Linked DNA regions of Homo sapiens: region 1 is linked to region 2. Evidence: fine-mapped expression QTL. Tissue or cell type: whole blood. Region 2 holds a variant in brackets; the other region holds the start of a gene. All regions are shown on one strand. Distances are from middle to middle.

Region 1 (8,103 bases), 94 kb before region 2:
CCATACTTAGGCTTCAGAGAGCAAACACGACTTCCTTAGGGAGGCCTTCCTGACTCCACTTCGCTGCTAAGTCTAGAGCAAATTCCTCAGTGGAGTACCCAGGATTTCCTTCCAGAGCCCTCAGTTTTGTAATTATATGAGTGAATCTGTCTCCCTTTGTTGGCAAGGGCTATTTTATTCACCACCATACTCCCAGTGTCTGAAAGCATCTGAAACAGTGTCAATCTATATAAAATACATTCATAATGTCTAAGAAGTGTTTTTAATGGTGTCATAAAATGTCCATGTTATAACATGGAATGTAAGAAGTCAGGATACAATCTTAACTAGTAAAAACTATACCGGGATGAGCCGGGCACGGTGGCTCATTCCTGTAATCCCAGCACTTTGGGAGACTCAGGCAAGTGGATAGCCTGAGGTCAGCAGTTTGAGACCAGCCTGGCCAACAGAGTCAAACCCCGTCTCTACTAAAAATACAAAAAATTAGCTGGGCATGGTGGTGGGCACCTGTAATCTCAGCTAGTAGGGAGGCTGAGGCAGGAGAATTGCTTGAACCTGGGAGGCGGCGGTCGCAGTGAGCCGAGATCGTGCCATTGCACTCCAGCCTGGGTAACAAAAGCGAAACTCCGTCTCAAAAAAATCCAAAAAAACCCCCCCGAAAAAACAAAAAAAACTATGCCGGAAAGATACACCAAGAACATGAATACTGGGCCAGGTGCGGTGGCTCACGCCTGTAATTCCAGCATTTTGGGAAGCTGAGAGGGGCGGATAACCTGAGGTCAAGAATTTGAGAGTAGCCTGGCCAACACGGTGAAACCCTTTCTCTACCAAAAATAAAAAAAAAATAGCTGGACGTGGTGGCACACACCTGTAATCCCTGCTACTCGGGAAGCTGAGGCATGAGAATCGCTTGAACCTGGGAGGCAGAAGGTACAGTGAGCTGCGATCGTGCTACTGTACTCCAGCATCGGCGACAGAGGGAGACTTCGTCTCAAAAAAAAGAACATGAATGCTGAGATGTTAATAATGTTCATCTCTATTCTAGGGAGTGGAATAACGGTAGTTATTTACTTCTTTGTGCTTTCCTGTATTTACCACAGGCAAACATTGCTATTATTTTTGAGACAAGGTCTCACTCTGTTGCCCAGGCTGCAGTGCAGCGGTGTGATCATGGCTCACTGCAGCCTCATCCTCCTGGGCTCAGGTGATCCTCCCACTCAGCCTCCCAGGGTAGTGTGGGTCACTGCACCCAGCCCATTATTTTTATGGTTAGGAAAAAATCATGCTTTTAAAAGCAAACAATGAGATGTGAGGATGATTGTGCTAGAGCAGAGGCGGGCTTATGAGATCACTCTGGGCCTCAGCTCCTCCTTGCTCACTGGTACTCCCTCCCTGACAGCACTGGTCAACCAGGGCACAGGGACTCACCTTCGGGGGTCTCTTTCCCCCAGCCTGTCAGTCAGGACATAGCTGGTCTTCTCACCCTCTTTGGTTAAACCCTAGTAGGGAGGGGAGTGAGAGAGACAAGGCTTGAGGCTTTTGGACAGTTCAGGTAAAGTGTAAGCCATGGGGAGTCAGGCCCCTCCATCTGGTTCCCAGCTCTGGGTCCTCTCTCCCAAGCAGGGCCAAGATTGGCAAATCAGGGACCCTTGGCAGTAGATGCCCCAACTCCCATGGCAGCCAGCACCATGACCGTCAAATAGCCCCTGTTTACCAGTGGCAAACCCATGGTCTTATGGGAAGGGCCCTGGGAAGGGGTTAGGCAGCCTGAGTGTGGATTCTGGTGGCCTCTGCACCCCTAAATAAATACCGGGAAAGAAACTCCGTGAAGTCAGGGGCAGGTTTGCCTCATTCCCTGCTACACCCTAGTGCTTAAGGGTATGGCCCAGAATGGACACCAGGAGATATTTGCTGAGCCAGTGAAGGGAGGAAGGGATGGTCTCTGCCTTCTTGTAGCCAGGAAGAACAGTCTTAACCCCAGATTGAGAGTCAGTCCAATTTGAAATAGAAGCTGTGTGAACCTGAGTGAGTCAACTACACATCTGTTTCTTAATTTGTAAATGGGTATAAAGACCTACTAGATAGGAGTATAAGGACTAAACCTGATAAGGGTGGAGCATGAATAAGACACTTAACAGTGGTTATAGCTGGGGAATGGGATGGGTGATAAGGAGAGATCCATTACTTTATCTAGAACTGTTTGAAATGTTTTCCTATAAGTTTGTATTATACACAATAAAAACTAAGGACCAATTGCACAGATGCCCAAGTGGCAACTTCCCTAGTCCTGAAATCCTGATACCACCCTGTGGGCAGAGCAACTCAGCTGTGGCTTCTCCAGAGTCCACAGAAGAAGGGCTGTAGTCATTTCAGGGCTGAAATGTGGCCATACCTGGCCCTAGGACAGGGTTCCTCACCTGGACAGGTTCTCCATCACGCCACACCAGACCTTCTCCATCACTTTCCCAGCAAAGGTGAACTTCCTGGCCCACCCATGCCTCTGGGATGGTCAGCTCCACCCGGAACCAGCAGGTCCACCATCTGCAAGAGAGCTGTTGTGATAGGCCTAGAGGTAGAAGTCCTATCCTGATATCCTTCCTTGGATAAAGTGTCGGCAGGGGCTTGAAACTCTCCAAGCATCTGCAGTGTCACAAGGTACTCAGCTTTGAGTCACAAGAAAGGAGCAACAAGGTGAGAAGCAAGATGAGGGAAACAGGCAGAGGCGTCAAAGGTTCGTGATCCCTAGGGTGCCCTTCCTAAGGGATGTCCAGAGGCGGCCACGTGGGAATGAAAACCATCCCCTGAAGACCCAGGGACCAGAGAGCTGTTCCCAGCAGAGGGTGCTGCTCCCAGCAGAGGGTGCTGCTCGATCCCACGTAGTTGTCTACGGCAGAGGGCAGACAACGAAGGTGTGGCTGGGAGCTGGGTTGGGACTTCCCCTAGGCCTGTGGCCCCGCCCACCCGCTGGGCGTTACCTACGTGGGTCCGAAGCTGTCGCCGACCTGCGCGGGGCGGAAGTCCCGCTGGACTGCCTCCTGGTAGGGAAGTCTCTCCGGCGTCAGGAAGCTGGAGAGCACAGCCACAGGGCAGCTGGCCCCAAAAAGCCTGCGTGGGACGGGCCGGTGGGCACATGCTGGAGGCCGCCCCGTTTCCGCCTGGGGGCCAGCTGGCCGGTGGGGCCGCACTTTCCCTGGATCCTCCGCCAAGAGGGCTGCCTGGCCGCTCCGCGGCACAGTCCATTCCCTACCCCCTCCTCCCCGGCCCCTGCCCTGCCCGCGGCGGGCACTTTGTCCCGCGGCCCGGGTGGCTGCAGCTTAGGTTTCTCCCCGGAAGGAAAGCTTGAGGCGCACGGTTGCGGTCGGCCGGCTGCGGGGGACCAGGGGCCACACCTGCCGCGGAGGTTACAGTCGGTAAAGTAGAGCGGCGACACGAACTTCTCCACCCGCTCCAGCGTGGTGCGCCAGTGCTTCAAGGCCGGCGCAGCCGCCATCGCCGGGCTCTCGCTCCTCTTTCCGGAAGGCCCCTGGCGCTACCGTTCCGCTCCACGGCAGGAAACCAAAGGTTCCGGCGTCCAGAGGGCGCCTCCCAGTCCCGGGCAGCTTTTCTTGGAACACCGGCGGCTCTCGGAAGCCCAGCTGCTGTCTGAACTTTGAGCCGAGTTGGAAGCTAGAAACTGTTTTTGAGGCTCTCCTATGTTGTCCGAAATAGTGGGCCGCAGGGAAAATCTCAAAATAAAATGGGAAATTTGACGATTAGAACTCTCGAAAGTCTCAAGACAGAGACTTAGGCCATTCGGCAAGACAGGCGGGAGCCTCAGCTGCTGCAGACCCAGCCTCAGAAGCAGCAACCGGGAGACCTCTGGCTCTAGCTGTCGGTGAACACGGAAAGTGGTGTTTGCTTAACGTGGAGCCAGACTACCCGGAATAGGTGTTTTCATACCGGACGGAGATCAGGGTGTTAGTGAGCAGGGTGGTAGAGCTTTACGCCCAAGTTACTACGACTTACTCGATTACACGCTTTACTGAATGTATATTGCTAACTCTTGCACATCACCAGAAACTCTGGAGTTTGAGGTGGCAGAACAGTCATGGCATTGACGATCCCAATGGAAAAATGTATTTCACCATACAGGACTGTAGAGTCCCGGGAAGCCATAATACCAGAAACAGACCTCCAGTTTCATTCTCATCCCTAGTACTCCACTGACAGCTTTATTTTTTTTCTCCTGGGGTTGCCAAGAGTCTTTGTCTATAAAATCATTAGGAACAAAAAAAAATACACAAGATTAGCCCTGATATTTTAATGGAAATACTGACCAAGTTTACAACATTTCAAATGCAGATCACACGGAAAGGTGACTAAGTACAGAATAACAAATGTGATTTAAAACAAAGATAACCTGCTGCTGCATATAATACAGGTTGGGTTTAGAGCTTGGAGCTCAGATGTCAGACAGCAGGAGGAATAAAAATGCTACTTGTGAAAACCCAGGCTGTAGGTAAAACTTACTCTTTTGTTGGTTGCACTGGTGGGTTGGGACTTTCTCCTGAACTGGCCTTGAAATCCTATCCTGACCTGCAGGCAAGTGCTCTGGACAAAACACTGCAGGGGCAGCAACAGCTGGGGCTGACCCTGATCACACCCCACCAATTTCCCCTATGGTTCCAGGTCAACATGACCTTTCTTGAGGGAACACGGGGATAGGTGAATTATTTGAGAAAACCTCAAGATCTTTCCCCTAAATCAGTACACATGACCACCGCCAAGTCAGACACTGCCCCAGCTTTGCCCTAAAATCTCATCCCACAAAGCTCTTTTTGGCACCCTACACTTTGGCTCACAGTCTCTTCTCCCCAGTACAAAAAAAGCCTAAAATCAGGCCAGGGTGGCTCACACCTGTAATCTCAGCACTTTGCGAGGCCGAGGTGGGAGGACAGCTTGAGGCCAGGAGTTTGAGACCAACCTGGGCAGCATAGCAAGACCCTGTCTCTACAAAAAGTTAAAAAATTAGCTGGGCGTGGTGGCATGCAGCTACTCAGGAGGCCGAGGTGGGAGGACTGCTTGAGCCTGGGAGGTCAAGCCTGCAGTGAGCTATGATCGTGGCACTGCACTCCAGTGTGGGTCATAAAGCGAGACACTGTCTTTAAACAATAAAAGCCTAAAATCAGAGAGGTCTACCATGTGTTTTGAAAATCCAGGAGCCAAAAAATTTTGTTTTTCTTTTTGGTGGTGGTGGTGATTTTTAACTAAAAAGCAAACATAAAACACACAGAACATTGCTGGTTACAACTAAGACTTGCGTAATGGTTGCTGAAGAAAAATCCACCAGAGTACTGGGAGGGGCTCAGTTGGTCTTTGTTCAGAAAGTCCAGGTTAACCACATAGAAAAATCCTAATCATTCATGTTTAAATGTCTGCTAGTTTAAATTTATGTAATTAAAAAAATAGGTATCCCATTTCAAATTCTCTCCCTCCCAACTCCATTTATAAGGTATACCACATGCCTTATGCACACTTTTTTTTCAAACACTGGTTTGGTATTTAAGTTGCTCACCCCCATCCATCACCAATGTGAATAAGAAAAAATATATAGAAATACAAACTACATAGCTTGACAACTTACCCAAATATAAAATATTTTCAGATTATTTGAACAAGGGAAAAAAACACGTACTAAAAGACTTAAGTATTCTAAGATTTTGGAATATTTTGATTTGGGACAAGTAACAAGTATTTTAAGCAAAATCCTGTTTCTACCCTGGATAAGGAACTGAAGTCAAAATCCCTGCTTCACAGTATTTTCTGGTGAGGACAAGGGACGTGGGTTGAGAGTTTATTCCTTAAGTAAGAACCAAGCTTTATTTATTTACAAAAAAAAAAAAAAAAAAGTTGGGGGCAAAGGGGAAGACAAGTTTTACACAAAAGTACTACAATGGTAACTCCCTTTGGTAAAAAGTGTAATAAATGTCTTGTACATCTGTTCATAGGTACTAAATCTGAAGCCACAGTACTATGGTACACAAGAAGCTAGAGCAGTTATGCTAGCACATCAAAGCATATTTCTTTTAATAAAAAATTGACAGTATGTACATTATGTACAAAAAAACAAGTTAAAATTGTGTGTGTGTGTGCGTGTGTGTGTCAGAGAGTAAAGCTGGTGGATGGCACTAAGGTAGACTAGTAAAGAGGCAGATACAAAACAGTTCCACGGGAGCTAAAAAGGACAACTGATTTGAACTCGTTGAGGTTGAGAACCAGAGGAGAGAAAAGGGTAGGCAGCAAGGGAATCGTCAGGAATAAAATCCACAAGATGATCAATCCCAAAGCCAAACTGCAGGTCCCAGATAAAACCTAATGGGTGATCTTAGATGTGCTCGAGTGACCAGAAAAAAAAAATCAAATCCAGCTTTTTTTTCCTTTTGTGGGGAGGGGAGAGGAGCAGTGACCATGATAGTTCCAATCCATCTGAGTATTAAGTCCTTCTCCAGTCTGTTTTGTAAATGCATCTCCATCCAGTCAAAGTGTGAACAGCATCCGGTTCCCTCATTGAAAGTTAGGCCACAGGAGACTCCAGTCTTAGCTCTGCTGGTGTGTGCAAGCAAACTGCATGTCTTTGCTTGCATGGACTTCCTTCCCCTCCAGGGCAGGCTATACCCAAAACCCTTTGGGAAAAGTTCCAGCTTCAGCTTTGTAAGGTATTCATGTTCCTAACAGGTAGCCCACTTGGTGCCAGGCTGCACCAGCCACACACAGGTCAGGTGGCCATGTCCCAGAGAGGCCCAGTGAGGCTTGAAAGGCATCTTCCTTGTTTCTTCAGTGTGTGAGTGCATAGGCCCACACACACATCCCCACACACACCCCAAGTTATCTGCTCTGGCTTTGCAGTTAAGGGGCTTTGAATACTGTGCCGTATTTGACACGATACTTGTTAATGCTCACAAAATGCAGGGTCTCTGTATCACAGGTGGTGGTACAGGGCACCAGGCCCTCCAGCCCCTCACCCATGAGCCACTTGCTGGTCTCTGCTGCCATTTCACGGGGCACATGCTCCTTGGTCCATTTATCTACCCAGGCCTGGAATCTCTGATGTAGACGCTTGCTTACACGCTCATGGGACTGCAAAACAGAAAAAAAAAATTTTATTAAATGAAGCAGAACCAAAAAAGAGCCCTTCAAATACAAAGCCTAATTTTCTTCTAAAGGAGCAAAGGAAAGATGTGGGCTCAAGTCTTAGATACCACTGTTTTTTTCTTAAAAGAAAAAAAAAAGGATTCTCTGTTTAAAGAGAAGTTAAAGAGGTAAGAACATAGAACATGTGAGGGCATGAAAATCCATAAAGCCTCCAAAGAAATGCGAACACAGGCTCTGGGCTGAAAAAGCTCGCTGTTCTCAATTTTAGCATGCGTTAGTATAACCGAGGGAATGTGTTAAAAAATACACATTTCTGACCAGGTGCAGTGACTCATGCCTGTAATCCTAGTACTCTGGGAGGCTGAGGCAGGCAGTTCGCTTGAGCTCAGGAGTTTGAGACCAGCCTGGGCAACATGGCAAAACCCCATCTCTACAAAAATACAAATAATAACTGGGCGTGGTGGCACACACCTGTAGTCCCAGCTACTTGGTAGGCTGAAGTGGGAGGATCGCTTGAGCCAGGAGGTGGAGGCTGCAGTGAGCCAAGATCGCACCACCGCACCCCAGCCTAGATGACAGAGCCAAACCCTGTCTCCAAAAAAAAAAAAAAAAAAAACCCAAAACCCCCAAAACCCACATTTCCTTGGTTTACCAATGTGCATTTTAAACCAGCAATCCAGCTGATTCTAATGTATCCTGGGTAGGACCCAGTGAGCCATTGATCACTTCTATCAGCATGGAGATCCACCTCTAAGCCAGACAGTGCAAAGCAAAGGGCTTAAAACCACTCTCCCTCCACTGTGTTACCCCACCCTGGGAAGCAGAGTCCAGGCTTGGCAGATGTTCTGCAGGGGGTTCTGTTCCCACCAACACATTCAATAAAAATTTATTGGTGTCCACATGCAAGGATACTAGAAGAGATACAAAGACAAAACTGGTGTTGCCCAGTGTCCCAAATAATGTGAATCAGAG
Region 2 (8,103 bases):
GATAAGAGTGAAACTCCATCTCAAAAAAAAAAAATTAGCTGTGTGTGGTTGCATGTGCCTACAGTCCGAGCTACTCGGGAGGCTGAGGCAGGAGAATCGCTTGATCCTGGGAGGTGGAGGTTGCAGTGAACCGAGATCACATCACTGCACTCCAGCCTGGGTGACAAGAGCAAAACTTTGTCTCAAAAAAAAAAAAAAATTAGCTGTCCATGGTGGCAACATGCCTACAGTCCCAGCTAGTTGGGAGGCTGAGGCAGGAGAATTGTTTGAACCTGGGAGGCGGAGGTTGCAGTGAGCCTAGATCGCGCCACTTCACTCCAGCCTGGGCAGAAGAGTGAAACTCTTTGAGAGTTTTTTTTGAGACAGAGTCTCAAAAAGAACCCAGTCGGGTGCAGTGCCTCACACCTGTAATCCTAGTACTTTGGGAGGCCCAGGTGGTTGGATCACCTGAGGTCAGGAGTCCAAGACCAGCCTGGCTAACATGGCAAAACCCCGTCTCTACTAAAAATAGAAAAATTAGCTGGGCGTGGTAGTGGGCGCCTATAATCCCAGCTACTCAGGAGGCTGAGGCAGGAGAATCACTTGAACCCGGGAGGCAGAAGTTGCAATGAGCCGAGATCATGCCATCTCACTCCAGCCTGGGTGGGGAAGAGTGAAACTCCATCTCAAAGAAAAAAAAAAAAAAAAAGAACCAATCCCCTGATGGCTGGATCCCCATCTCAAATTCCTGCTCTATTTCTTAATTTCTTAAGGGGCTCTAGCTGAAGGCATAACAGATACTGTGTCAAAGTGAGATGAGGCAGATTGGTGGAGCAGAAAGAACTAGTCTGGAAGTTGAGTCCCCTGGTTCCCACTTAGTCCCTTCTTATCTGTGGATCAGCTTCCTCTCCTATATAAGAGGATAACATAGCAATCCTTGCCCTGTTATGAGGATCAAATGTGATGATAAAGTGTGCTTTATCACCTGGTAAGGTTCTGAGCTGCTGTGGAAGCCAAAGACCCAGCATTTGACAGTGATACTAGGCAGCACGTGTTGTGCTGTGGATGCAGTTACTCATGGAGGATTTGCAACTGCAACAGTTACCTCCACTCAGAGAACCAGGCTTTGCTGACACTGCCCATGGTCCTATGTGTGCCACCCTGGTGGAGACCTCCTCCTGAACACTTGGCAGACTGAGTTTCTTGAGGACAGACACTTCGATGCACCTCTGAGTCCCCAGAGCTCACTGCAGTCAGATACAGGGGGCCCTTTGGAAGGGGTCCAGTGATGGTTTCTCACTCAGTATGTTGACACCTGGACAGCACGGCAAGTCCCACATTCTTTGGGAAAGAGAACGCTTGATTTGGTGACATTGTCCCTCCAGCTGCCAGCTGCACTGAGGGATTACATCCATGCTACTCCCCTGACTACCCTATCAGTGAAGACAAAACTAAGTGGACTTTGTGAACCAACTGGTATAGGTAAAAATAATAATAATGATAATAATTAAAATAAAATTAAGTGGATTTGGGTAAGGGCCCTCCTAGGAGAAATCACACTGGTAGGTCAGGTTCTGATTCCTGGAGGCCCGTTTTATGTGAAAAGTCTCATAGACCAGCCTGGGCAACACAGTGAGACTGTCTCTACAAAAAATAAAAACAAATTTAGTTGGGCATGGTGGCATGTCCCTGTGGTCCCAGCTACTCAAGAGGCTGAGGCAGGAAGGTCACCTGAGCCTGGGAGGTTGAGACTGCTGTTAGCTGTAATCACACCGCTGCACTTGAGCCTGGGAGACAGAGCAAGACCCTGTCTCAAACAACAACAACAACAAATTCTTGTAGAGTTTGTGAGTTAGGGATTATTATCCTTAGTTATAGATGAGCAAACTGAGGCTAACAGCAGTAGAGTGACTTGCTCAAGTCAAATAGCTTAAGGGAAGTCTGGGTCCAAAGTCTAAGCTTTGCCTCCACTCCCACACGCTGTCTTTGTGCACTCCGGCCAGTGACCCAGGTTGGGGCCTGGAGAAAAACAGCCTGACTCCCCTGTTGCTCCACACTCCTCACCTCCCTAACTTAAAGATCAGTTTATCCTCAGACAATTCTAAATGATTTCTGGCCGTTTCCAGAAAATTATCCAGAAAAGCAACATTTGTCTGATGCACATACATACATACATACACAGAAGACCTAAACTCGCAACACATAAACTCAAATCTATCACACCTCCTGACACCCTCAATCTCACAGGTGTCTCACATACACCCTCTCTCTTTCACAAAAAGGACTCATTCAAAGTTCTTTAGGGCACTTATGGTAGGTGGTGACTGAGAGACATTTAGGGCCTGCACTTCAGTGACTCTGCCAAGGATATCAGTGCCAGCACCCTATCCACACAAGCTCTGAGGGCTAAGACTCTCAGTAATATCCAGGTAAGGAGGATATGAGGCTGGCTCCCCAGGGACCCACAACCCAAAGCATCTTCTAGGTTCAAGGCAAGATGATTTTGGCAAATCATTTATCTTTTCAGTTTCTTTATCTGTAATCTAAGAATCAGAATACCTACTTCGGTGGGAAGATGTGAGATTTAAAATTAAGTATGCCTGCCGGGCGTGGTGGCTCACGCCTGTAATCCCAACACTTTGGATCACGAAGTCAGATCAAGACTATCCTGGCTAACACAGTGAAACCCCGTCTCTACTAAAAATACAAAAAAATTAGCCGGGCATGGTGGCACGCGCCTGTAGTCCCAGCTACTTGGGAGGCTGAGGCAGGAGAATCACTTGAGCCGGGGAGCCGGAGGTTGCAGTGATCCGAGATCATGCCACTGCACTCCAGCCTGGGCGACAGAGACTCTGTCTCAAAAAAAAAAAAAAAAAATTAAGTATCCCTAGCATTCAGTCAAGAGTTCTCATATCTTTTTCCCCTCCTTTATCTCATCCCTACCTCCCTCTTCTCCTGGCCATTCAAATGCAAAGTCCGATTGAGCAATGAGCCCTGGAGCAGGCCTAGAGGGCCAAATAATCCCATGATGTGAAGAAACTCCATTTCTCTTGCAACCAGGTTTAGATGGTATATATTCCGTAATTTCTGATTTCTGGGTGGCCTTGGAGGCTCGGAATTTTTTTTTTTTCTTTGAGACGGAGTCTCGCTCTGTCATCCAGGCTGGAGTGCAGTGGCGCGATCTCAGCTCACTGCAAGCTCAGCTTCCCGGTTTCACGCCATTCTCCTGGGAGGCTCGGAATGTTTGAAGGAATTTTTATGACTGCTACTCACTGCCTTGAAATGTTTCCCCTGGCTGAGCATTAGTTTACCCTTCTGGGTCACTCAGCATGTTCCTCAGTTTACCTGGCTTTATGTTTTCAAAGTGTTTCCTTCTCTTTACCAGTTGTTTGGTGGCTTTTTTTTTTTTTTTTTTGAGACAGAGTTTCGCTCTTCTTGCCCAGGCTGGAGTGCAATGGCGCGATCTCCGCTCACCGAAACCTCCGTCTCCTGGGTTCAAGCGATTCTTCTGCCTCAACCTCCCCAGTAGCTAGGATTACAGGCTTGCGCCACCATACCCGGCTAATTTTGTATTTTTAGGAGAGATGGGGTTTCTCTGTGTTGGTCAGGCTGGTCTCAAACTCCCGACCTCAAGTGATCCACCCGCCTTGGCCTCCCAAGGTGCTGGGATTACAGGTGTGAGCCACTGCGCCTGGCCTGACGTTTTTTTTTTTTTTTTTAAAGCAACGAGTTCCTTTGTTACTGCTTTTTAAAAATAGAATAGCTTGCCATTTGAGAATTTATTATTTTTATTTATTTTTTTAGAGACGGGGTTTTGCCATGTTGCTCAGGTTGGTCTGAAACTCCTGGCCTCAAGTGATCCTCCCACCTTAGCCCCCCAAAGCACTGGGATTACAGGCCTGAGCCACTGCACCCAGCAAGGTCCTTTGTTCAAAGAAAATCTTATTCAGAAGCCTAATGTGTAAGAGATCAAGGTGGGCCTTGTTTTGGTTTAAGTGAGGACAGCCTGGGCACTGCAGTCTATTCCTTCACATCTCTCTCATGCAGCCTCCCTAACAGCCACATAGTCCCTTCGAAGACTTCTAATGAACCCACATTTCAGATCTTGTTCATTCGTCCCAGCCACTACCTACCTCTCAGCAGCCTGTGACAAAGCAGCCTGGCTTTGTGCTCAGTTACCTCTGCCTGTTCATTAGTATCCTTCAGCAGCTTTTCTTCCTCCGCCCATTACCTAAATGTTGGTGACATCCAAACGTATCTCCTCTCTTGCCTTCCTCATTCTCACTTCAAGGCTCATTGCTTCTGTCTAACTAAGTCCTAAACTGACATCTCCAGACCAGTATCTGCCCTGCACATCAGACTCCAGACTTCCACTGGATGCTGGCCACAGAAAATTTTTTATTAAAAATACATTTTTTCACAGAAGAAAATTCATTA[A/G]AAGTCAAGAAAGAGCCCCCAGATGAAATGGCTGACCTTTACTCAGGTGCACATCTGGCCAGTCTTGAGGCTTTAAGACAAACTACGCAGCAGCATTAGAGAAGTAGTAGATTATAATGTGCGGGGAGGGGAGACGGACGTGAGCCTGGAGTCTGAGAGGGGCACTGTACCGTTTTTTCCAACACCCCCAGCTAGGATTCTAGTGGAGTTAGCTATGTCCACCATGGCCTTAGCCTGAAAAATATGGGCATTTAAGACTTCAGCAGGCCACATTTAGCTCAAACAGGAGGATTTTATGACAGCCAAGGTAAAGAAGGGAGATTTAAACATTGTAACAGGTTTCAAGGTGCTAGATTTTTTTTCCCCCAAGAAAACATCTCCAAGTAAAAGTGATATATTTCTATTTGTGGAGAAGATCCTAGTCTTCTCTGTAGTCAATTATGAACAGTGCAGTCTAGAACACTTGATATTCACAAGTGTTGTGTAAAGGTAACTATAGGGCGGATACCTCCTAAGAGAAAAAGATGGTTCCCAGGCTGATGGGCATTTCCATTCCTGCCCTTGGTAGGCTCACAGTGGTTTGTGGGAGTAACCAAGGCCAGAGAGAAATCTAAGGACTAGGTTGGGAGCTATAGGACCCTTGGTCTGTTCATGCTTTGCCTCTGAGAAACCCTGTAGACCCCACATTAAGAAACAGGGAAACTTTAAAGGCCTATAGGCTGGTCTTGGAGATGACAGAGACCTGACCTGCTTTTCCTCCAATTGGAAGGCCAAGGGGGAAGAGAACTGAGGGAAGCTAGGGAAGTAGCAGCAGCTTGAAAGAAGAGACTCTGAAAACACACTAAAACTGGAGAGGCTGGGTGTGGTGGCCCATGCCTGTAATCCTCTCACTTTGGGAGGCCGAGGCAGGAGGATTGCTTGAGGCTGGAGTTCGAGACCAGCCTGGGCAACATAGTGAGATCCTGTCTCTAGAGAGAGAGAGAGAAAAAAAAAAAAAGCTGGGTTCCTGCTTGAGCCCAGTTGTTGAGACTGCAGTGAGCCATGATCATGCCACTCCCCTCTAACCTAGGCAACAGAGTGAGACTCTGTCTCTGAAAGTAAAAAAAATGAAAAGTGGGGAGTGCTAGTGGGAGCCAACTCAACCCAAGTAAAGGCCTAATAGCTCCTCTATGGGTGTTTGCACTGTCTAACAAAGAACTGGACCCTGACAGTCAGAGGACCCATGGTAGGATCATCTAGTGTAGCCCCTTCTTTTACAGAGGGAACCTAGGACTTGGGTTTGGTTCAGTGGTAAGACCTCAAAACCACAAAAGAGCTGGGTCACTCTAGAGAAGCTTTTCTACTTGGCCAATGCCTCTTGGCCCAATTCCCTCTAGGTCTCTGATTTATAAAAGTTTTTGTATGTGTGTCTGTCTGTCCCAAGAGACAGGAAGCATTCCTTTCAGGGAAGGAACCAAATTTCCCTAGGGCTATGATGCTAAATAGTCCATTCTCCCAAGAACAAGTCCTACTCTGTCATTTACCTGCATACTGTCACATGAAGACTGATAAGGGTGGGCCTCCGAGGCTGAGGATGCTGGGGCACCCTTCGTCTCAGGAGTCCCATCCTAGCCAATGAGGATGGGCAAGATGAAGGGAGCAATGGGAAAAAGGACACAGGGATTATCTCATGTTTGAAAAATTATATAGCATGGGAATGTTAGAGAAAGGTGAAACAAACAGCCATCAAATCAGAAGCAGAAGCCTGCTTTAGCTCAGTGTTTTCTTCTTTCCTGAACACTGTCTTTCTTTTTTATTTATTTATTTTTTTTGAGATGGAGTTTTACTCTTGTTGCCCAGGCTAGAGTGCAATGGCGCGATCTCGGCTCATTGCAACCTCTGCCTCCCAGATTCAAGTGATTCTCCCATTTCAGCCTCCCGAGTAGCTGGGATTACAAGCACATACCACCACACCCGGGTAATTTTTATATTTTTAGTAGAGATGGGGTTTCATCATATTGGTCAGGCTGGTCTCAAACTCCTGACCTCAGGTGATCTGCCCACCTCGGCCTTCCAAAGTACTGGGATTACAGGCATAAAGCCACTGCACTTGGACCCTGAGCATTTTCTCTTGCTTTGTTCACTAAGTCTCCTGTATGAGAACCCTGACTTGCCAAACAGATTCTGGGTTGCGTCTCTGCCTTCCCTTTCCTTTACCTCCTCCTTTAACACCTAACACAGGTAGGTTCACGCTGGTAAAAGCTACAAACAATGGCAGTGGGAGGAGTTCCTCTGAGTTTTACTGAAAATTTAGGAGACATCAATTTGTTAACTCTCTATAGGGTCAGAAACATGAACTAAATCTATGGTTCCCAAACCTGGATAATCCTGTCACTCACTAACAACCTACTGGATGGGCCCAGAAATCAGCATTTTATGGAGCTGAAGTGATAGATAACCTCACCAGTCTTCAGATATGCAATGAGGAACTCATGCATAACCTTAAATTCACAGGGCAGTCGGGTTACAGCCTCTTCAAATAAATGACAATTTAAAGTTACCTCCTCCAGGCCGTTTATCATTAATCCCATTTCTTACATGTTCCACCAAACCCCTGACCTCTCTGGTTTCTCAGATTTCCAAGAATCTCTGTTCACTTCTTATGTTTGTGCACTCCCAAGAGAATGGAGGCTCATCTGGAGAAGGAACTAGATTAATCTTCTGCTCTACACTTGAGCTCCTGATTATGGTAAGAAACTCGATAAAAATTTATTGGCAGATCAGAAGATGGATCCTTAGAGGAAGTCTAGTGTAAGAGGTGAAAGAAGATACTTTGGAGTCAGATGGTCTGGGATCCTGGCTGTAGCAAATTAACATTCCTGTCTCTCAATTTTTTTCTTCTGTCAATACCTACCTCAAAAGGTTGTTGAGGGTGAATGAGATGATACCTAGAAATTACTCTGAACAGTGCCTGGAATAGAGTGAGCATCCAGTAAATTGGCTGCTATGACTATTATTAAGAACACCCCAATATTTCCCAGCCACAACTGCCCCAACTGGGCAGGCCATCAACAGCCAACAGGTATGATATGGGGAGTGGTCTTCCATGTACAAAGCTTCTGGTTCCTTTCTTTCTAAGAGATAAATGCAAATGACTCAAGATCTTCTCACAAAGACCATGTACCCATAGATATGGAGTCTCCTGGGGAGAATGATAACCCCTTTGGTACGCTGCAGACATGAGGACCCTACATCAGGAGGTCCTAGCTAGGACAGTCAGTCACCAACCCTGTCACCCTTCGCGTCTACTACATGAAGCATGGGCACAAGAACAACAACCTGGAATTTAAGAACTTTTTTTACTCTGAAAGGAGAGCTAAACAAACCTCTGTTCTCCAAACACAAGATCTCCATCTTCCATGCAGTGAAGAGACCACAGGCTTTGTAAGCAGACCAACTTGAGCTCGTTTTAGAGCAAATCACTGTAACCCTCTGGACCTCACCTTCCTCATCTATATAGAAATGAGAAAGGGGTGCACAGGAGAAGGGAGAGAAGATAATATCTCACTGAATTGTTGTGAGGTTTGAATGAGGCAGGGTGGGGGAAAAGCACCTAGCATAGTGCTTAGCACATCTCAAGCACTGAACTGGTGCTGGTCCCTCTGTCCAGAGATAGGGCCATGGCCTACAGACAAGGTGAACTCATAG

What was found. PIP is the estimated chance that this variant, and not a neighbour inherited with it, causes the effect.
Region 1: it holds the start of MAN2C1, and the variant in region 2 is fine-mapped to the expression of MAN2C1 in whole blood (INTERVAL, PIP above 0.99).

What each region holds. Positions count from the first base shown.
Region 1 is chr15:75,365,094-75,373,196 of GRCh38, forward strand. It overlaps MAN2C1 (mannosidase alpha class 2C member 1), which reads right to left and starts at 3,514. Exons shown (of 26, transcript NM_006715.4): 1 at 3,390-3,514; 2 at 2,980-3,105; 3 at 2,418-2,541; 4 at 1,429-1,499. The coding sequence starts at 3,490. It overlaps SIN3A (SIN3 transcription regulator family member A), which reads right to left. Exons shown (of 21, transcript NM_001145358.2): 21 at 4,286-7,116. The coding sequence ends at 6,886. RefSeq lists a silencer at 3,181-3,260 and enhancers at 3,287-3,819, 3,391-3,710, 3,395-3,689.
Region 2 is chr15:75,458,894-75,466,996 of GRCh38, forward strand. It overlaps PTPN9 (protein tyrosine phosphatase non-receptor type 9), which reads right to left. Exons shown (of 13, transcript NM_002833.4): 13 at 4,358-8,103. Among named protein-coding and RNA genes, the nearest start is that of SIN3A, 11 kb to the left of the region's middle. RefSeq lists an enhancer at 1,795-2,089. The variant A/G (reference allele first, on the strand shown) is at 4,417.